Regions from separate parts of the Homo sapiens genome. Here region 1 is linked to region 2. The links come from fine-mapping of genetic effects on gene expression. A gene starts in region 2. The other region holds a variant in brackets. All regions are shown on one strand. Distances are between the middles of the regions. Region 1 overlaps CTTNBP2NL (CTTNBP2 N-terminal like). Region 2 holds the start of WNT2B (Wnt family member 2B).

Evidence for each region. PIP is the estimated chance that this variant, and not a neighbour inherited with it, causes the effect.
Region 1: its variant is fine-mapped to the expression of WNT2B in fetal neocortex (Walker 2019, PIP 0.95).

The regions. Positions count from the first base shown.
Region 1 is chr1:112,456,716-112,459,731 of GRCh38, reverse strand. It overlaps CTTNBP2NL (CTTNBP2 N-terminal like), which reads right to left. Exons shown (of 6, transcript NM_018704.3): 6 at 1-3,016. The coding sequence ends at 2,320. Among named protein-coding and RNA genes, the nearest start is that of MIR4256, 3.6 kb to the left of the region's middle. The variant TGACC/C (reference allele first, on the strand shown) is at 1,404.
Region 2 is chr1:112,507,857-112,510,356 of GRCh38, reverse strand. It overlaps WNT2B (Wnt family member 2B), which reads right to left and starts at 1,392. Exons shown (of 5, transcript NM_024494.3): 1 at 913-1,392. The coding sequence starts at 1,094. RefSeq lists enhancers at 157-656, 1,581-2,124 and silencers at 756-1,050, 1,044-1,153, 1,214-1,293, 1,354-1,463, 1,474-1,603.

The DNA.
Region 1 (3,016 bases), 51 kb after region 2:
CTGTAGCCTCCTCTCCAGTTTAGAAAGTTTAGCTATTTTATCAACACTATTCGTTTTGGCTCTGCATAGGAATAAAGTTCAATGCATGATTGCCTTGGACAGTTTAAGATACCCCCTACATCATTTTGATAGACACCTTGGGGCATTAGTAGCATTTTTATTTTTCATGTATTTGCCTTTATCAAACTATAAGCTGTGGAGTTGCCAATATACTCCATTGTGATTTATACACTGATTTCCATCACCTGCCTTTTTACTATCAACTCTTATTAGATTAAAAGGAAATAGACTTAAATTATAGCAGGAGGTCAGGGCTGCTGGATAGATGTTGGCTCAGAGAATGTATGTGAAGACACCAAGGCCTCTCCTGTATGGACACAAAATCATATAACCACTGTGTCTGAGCTGGGTTGTGGATAGTCTTATTTGGCAGAGGGGGATAGCCATTATATTCTATGAACCTTGCCAGCTGTACTGGCCTACACAGTTGGAAAGTTTGGAGGCTTTTGTCCGCATAGACTTGCTATGATGAAAATGACAGAAGTTTCTAGAATGAAAGAGGTTGCAACTTGGCAGCTTGCAAGCTAAATCCAGCTGCAGACGTGTTTGTTTAACCAGCACCATTTAAACATTTTAAAATCACTTCTTGATATTTAAAAATGAGAATGTTTCTCATGAAAATTTGGATTTCAAAAAATGTGAAGAACTGGTAATCCTGGTTTAGCATTCTTGCACCGCAGCAAGCAGATGGAGCTGAACAGATGCCCTTTTTAAATGCGGCTTGGGCACTTTAGTTTGCCACAGCTCCCACTGCTCCCAGCTGTTTTACATCGCTTGTGTGAGAGGCCTGTTTCACTCATTTATATGACCAGTTGAGTTTTGTGACACTGGGGTTAGTTTAGCTCTGCCTATTTATTTTTTTAATAGAGATGGGGTCTCACTATGTTGATGAGGCTGGTCTTGAACACCTGGTCTCAAGAGATCCTCCCATCTCAGCCTCCCAAAGTGATAAGATTACAGGCATGAGCCACTGTGCCTGGCCAGCTCTGCCTTTTTATGATACTGAAGATCTAGGCTTCATTTGGAATTTCCTCACCTTCCTGTGGACAAAATTCCTCCTTTGATTGTGTCCCAGCCACATCTAGTTGCTTCGGTAGGTAATCTTAATGTGCAGTTCTACTTGTCCTTTATGCTATATTGCAAACTCCAAAGATATAATCACACTAGTATTTATGTGTTTAAGTGTGTGTATGTTAAACATGTAAAGGGGTAATGTATCTATACAGATATATGTATACTTCCCATTTAAGCAAAAGTTAATTTGGTTTTACAGATACAGATACCAGGTTCTGGCAGCTTGGAGAATAAGTGTAACAATTTGGTAAAACTTGTATAATTCTGAC[TGACC/C]TATAATATTACAGAGTGAATTTCAAGTTATTGCTTTTTGATTACAGAATAAAAAATTCATTCTCTTGCAAAACTTTTATACAGAATGAGTAACCATTTCCTATTCAAGTAACAGCAATCAGAATCAGAAGTTCCTTACACAACAGTAGATGCTTGAGACATTTTTTGAATGGAGATGTGATTTCATTCTGTTCAAGAACTTATGCAGGAAACTGGGAGTGACTTAATTTTTCAAAAGTACAAGAAAATCAGCACCCCAACTGCTTAGTGCTCAGGAGGGTTTCTCAAGGGCTCTATAAAGCTCAGCTTGTGGTGAGTTCACACCCACCTTTAGAAGGATTCCCATTCTACTTATGCAGCCTTGTTTCAGAACACAAAGCTTGTATTAAAACATTAAAAGAGGATTAAAAGCAGTGTTGGTTTTTAACATTCAGAATTCACAGAGGATCTCATTTTCTGTAATTAAATGATCTATTTTGTGTTTTTTGCTGCAGAATCACATTCATATGGCAGTCATATTTCAGGCACTTTTAAAACATGTTCATCTGGAATAAAAATCTGCATGAACCACTTCTGCATAATTCAAAATGAGTGTTGAGTGATTCTAGTTCTCAAATAGATAGCAAATCACCACCTGGTGATTCGCTTTCTTCATCACAACATGACGGTGACTGCTGAGCTTGAGACATCTTTGAGGTGCCTTTCTGGCTTCAGTAAAAAGATGTGAGCCATAAAAATCCAAACTACTCAGTTTCTACTTAAAAAAATACAAAATGGTGAAATATACTAAATGTATTATACAGATGGTTTCAGCTACTATCAAAATAAATAACATAATCTGACTCAGAAGTCTGACTGAGCTTTTGGACGAAATCTGATGGAATGTCAAACGTGGAGACTCCCTCCTAGGGACTAGCTGCTGGTAGGCAAAAGTAACTCAACATCCTTACCATTTGCTACAACAGTATTGGAAGAGCAGCTGCTGGCAAGGTCTTCTGCAGTGGTCAAAGAGGCTGCCTGGGAATGAGTTTTGGTCAATGGAGTGGTAGCAGATGGAGAAGGGGTGAGGCCAGGTTTCTTGGGTGGGATGGGTGGAGGGTTTCCTCTCTCAGCTCTGGGGATGGTTGGGGACTTGATTCCTGGAGACAGGGGGCTCAGGGGACTGGACACTTTCCCTGGAGTAGGTGAATGGCTTGTGTCACCTCTTGGATTGGCAGTGTTGGCTAGATTTCGATAGTCTGTGCCAAAGGGAGAGCTGTTGGGAGAGACTGGCTTGATTGGCCCTTGTTGGCTAGTGAATCTGGAGAGCACCTGAGTGACTGTGTTTCGGGCCAGCTGCTTGGCGGCAGAGTTGTCTATGAGGGTGGGGGATAAATCCCTGGATGGAGGGCTCTGTAGGCCACTGGCTTGTTGGTCCTGATCTGCTTGGGACTGAAATTTGTGGCGAGCTGCATGGAACCGTTGGTTGATCCCTACTTGGTACGATGACTGGTAGCCAGGGCTGCTAGCTGATGACCCCAATAAACGCTTAGTGAGTACCGGCGAAGAGCAAGGAGAGGATGTTAGAGAGGAGGAGGCAGTGCTGCTGGGAGACAGTGAGCTCCCACTG
Region 2 (2,500 bases):
CTGCTTTGCCCTCTCCCCATGGTGGGGAAGAAGGGAAAGCAGCTCCTTCTCCTACGGGAAGGTGATGAGTGCCATCCAAGGAGTAGGGGGCAGGGAGGATTCTAAAAAGAACAGACACGAGACATCCAGTGGATCTGTAATGCCTTTTTGCCTCATCTGCCCTCTTGTGAAGTGTCTGGAGTCTAGGGCCTGCAAGAAATCTGGGGAGGGGGTCTCTTAGTATCTTGGGACTCCGCAGCCCTCTGGCTCTTGGAGGGGAGAAATGGGAGATGGGAAAGAATAGGAAGAAGGGAGGGAGGCAAAGTTTCCTAAGTGACATCCTCAAAACGGTGGCTGAAGACAAATGCCTAGATAATGCAAACCCATGCGTTTTGTTTGTTTTAATTGTGGGAGTTAATGGGGTAAATTTTGCCTCGATTCCATTTCTAAGCCTCGGCTGGGTGCTGCTGCCTCACCAAAGCCTTCCTGTGGTATGGGTGGGCTAGACTAGCGAGCTGCCCCTTTCTCCACCTCTCAGAGGGCGACCTTAGGCGATTGGGGCCCTGGCGAAGCTATTGCGGGCCCTGGAAGGTTATTCGTTCCTTGAACTCACCCTGAGGGAAACTCGGAAGGTAGCTTCTGCCCTAAGGGGCTTGAGCTGAAATAGAGGGGGTACAGCACGTGGAGGCCTAAGGAGCCGCGACCACCGGGCATCCTTGCTCCGAATGCCCAGCGCCTTTCTCACCAGTCGTGTAAGACGCGGCGCCTCACCCTCCCGCCACCCCGCGACTTCAGATTTCAGTGACAGTCCTGCCCGAATCGTCTCCAACCCGTCGAAGCAACAGCCTGGTCCCGTGAGCAGCCAGTCCCTCCAGGCGCCTCCGGCCTCTCCTACCAAGCGCCTCACCCGCCCAGCCTGAGAGCCACACTTACCACCAGGACGTGTCTACGCGGGCCGGCAGCGTCAGCAGCAGCAGGAGCAGAAGGCAGGCAAGACCTAGGCGGGCCGAAGCCCGGGAGCCGTCGGGGGCCGCGGGCGACGGCACAGGGACCGGGGCGCTGGCGCGCCGAAGCGGGAGCTGCGCAGCTTCCTCCGCACCACCCGGTCTCAGCATAGCTCCCCGAAGACTCCCGCCGCGCAGCCCGGAGGGGCGTGGACGGGGCACCTTCTGGGGGTACTCAGGCTGCTCCTACCTCACCCCCCTGGGGGGCCATGGTGTTCGCCGGCGGCTGGGGACCTAGGATCACCTGGGGTCCAGAGCCCGGGAGGAGGATCCCCGAGAGGGGCGCAAGTTGCGATGTCCGGAAGCCGACGACGGCGTGCCGAACCCGGGGTCTGGGGCGCGCTGCCTGAGGACCGGGTGCGGTGTCAGGGGGTCTGCGGCGCTGAAGGGAGCTGCGGGCCTAGTGTGCGGACAGCCCCTTCGGCCGCGGGCTCTCATTGGACGGGACGGGGCGGGGCCGAGGCCGGGGACACGCGCGGCCCTTAGGGCGGCTCCGCCCGCGCCAAGCCCGGGGCGCTCCGCGACGCCCTAGGTGTAGCAGCCGCCTCCGCCCCTCGGGGCTCCCGCGCGCCACCGCGCTGCACCCCCACCTGCTCCCGCACGCTGCGACGGGACGCCGCGGCTCCCTCCTGCGCCCCAAGCGCCCAGTCCCTGCCGACACCGCGCCACCGGGTCCTAGCGCCCTTCACTCAGCAGCCCCACTTCTATGGGTGACGGCCAGGCTGGCGGAGCGGGAAGGGGATGCGGGCACTTCCCTCCTGTCCCCAACCTACAGTGACACCGGCGCTGAGCACGGAGGATGCACTCATTTCCTCCATCCTTGCGCTTCTGTGAAATGGGTAGAGTCCCTGCCACCGGGAGTTGGAGGTCTTAACTACCTTTTCAACACTGCCTACAGGAGCGCCGTGGGCAGTCGGCTTCTAGCAGGGGATGCTTTCAGCTAGAGCTCATCGCCCCTGCTTCTTCTGAGCCACTGCACCCCCCACCCCCAATGCATCACGTTTAGACCTGGCTCCTGCTTGCCCGGCCTGCCCGGCCCGGGTGCTTTTCTTTACGGACCGGGAATCGACTGCCGACGCTAAGGGGGCACCTGCGGACTCCCCGCCCCTTACTCCTGGGCTCAGCGGAGCTCAGTCTCTCCCCGCTCCCCCTCTGTGCCTCGGTCCTCCACCCTCTCGGGCGGGGCTGAGAGTATGAAAGAATCAGAAACAGCTGGGAGGTTTTCCCGCACCAGAGGCCAGGGTGGGGGTCCTGCCGAGAGAGTGGAAGCCCTGGAGCTTTTTCCCTCCTTCGTCTTCTCGCCCTGCCTCCTCCCCACTGCTCCTTCACCCTCCCTCCGCCCGCACAGCGCCTGGGGGCGTGGTAAATAGGGAAGGGGTGGGGAGGTGCAGTCTGCCGAAAGAGACTCTCCTCTCCCCACCACCCCAACCCTCAAACCTCCCAGGATAGCAGGTACGGGCCCTGCGGGCACTGTGGCCCTCCGTCAGAAGTAAAATTCTTTTTAAAATCCTGGGCTT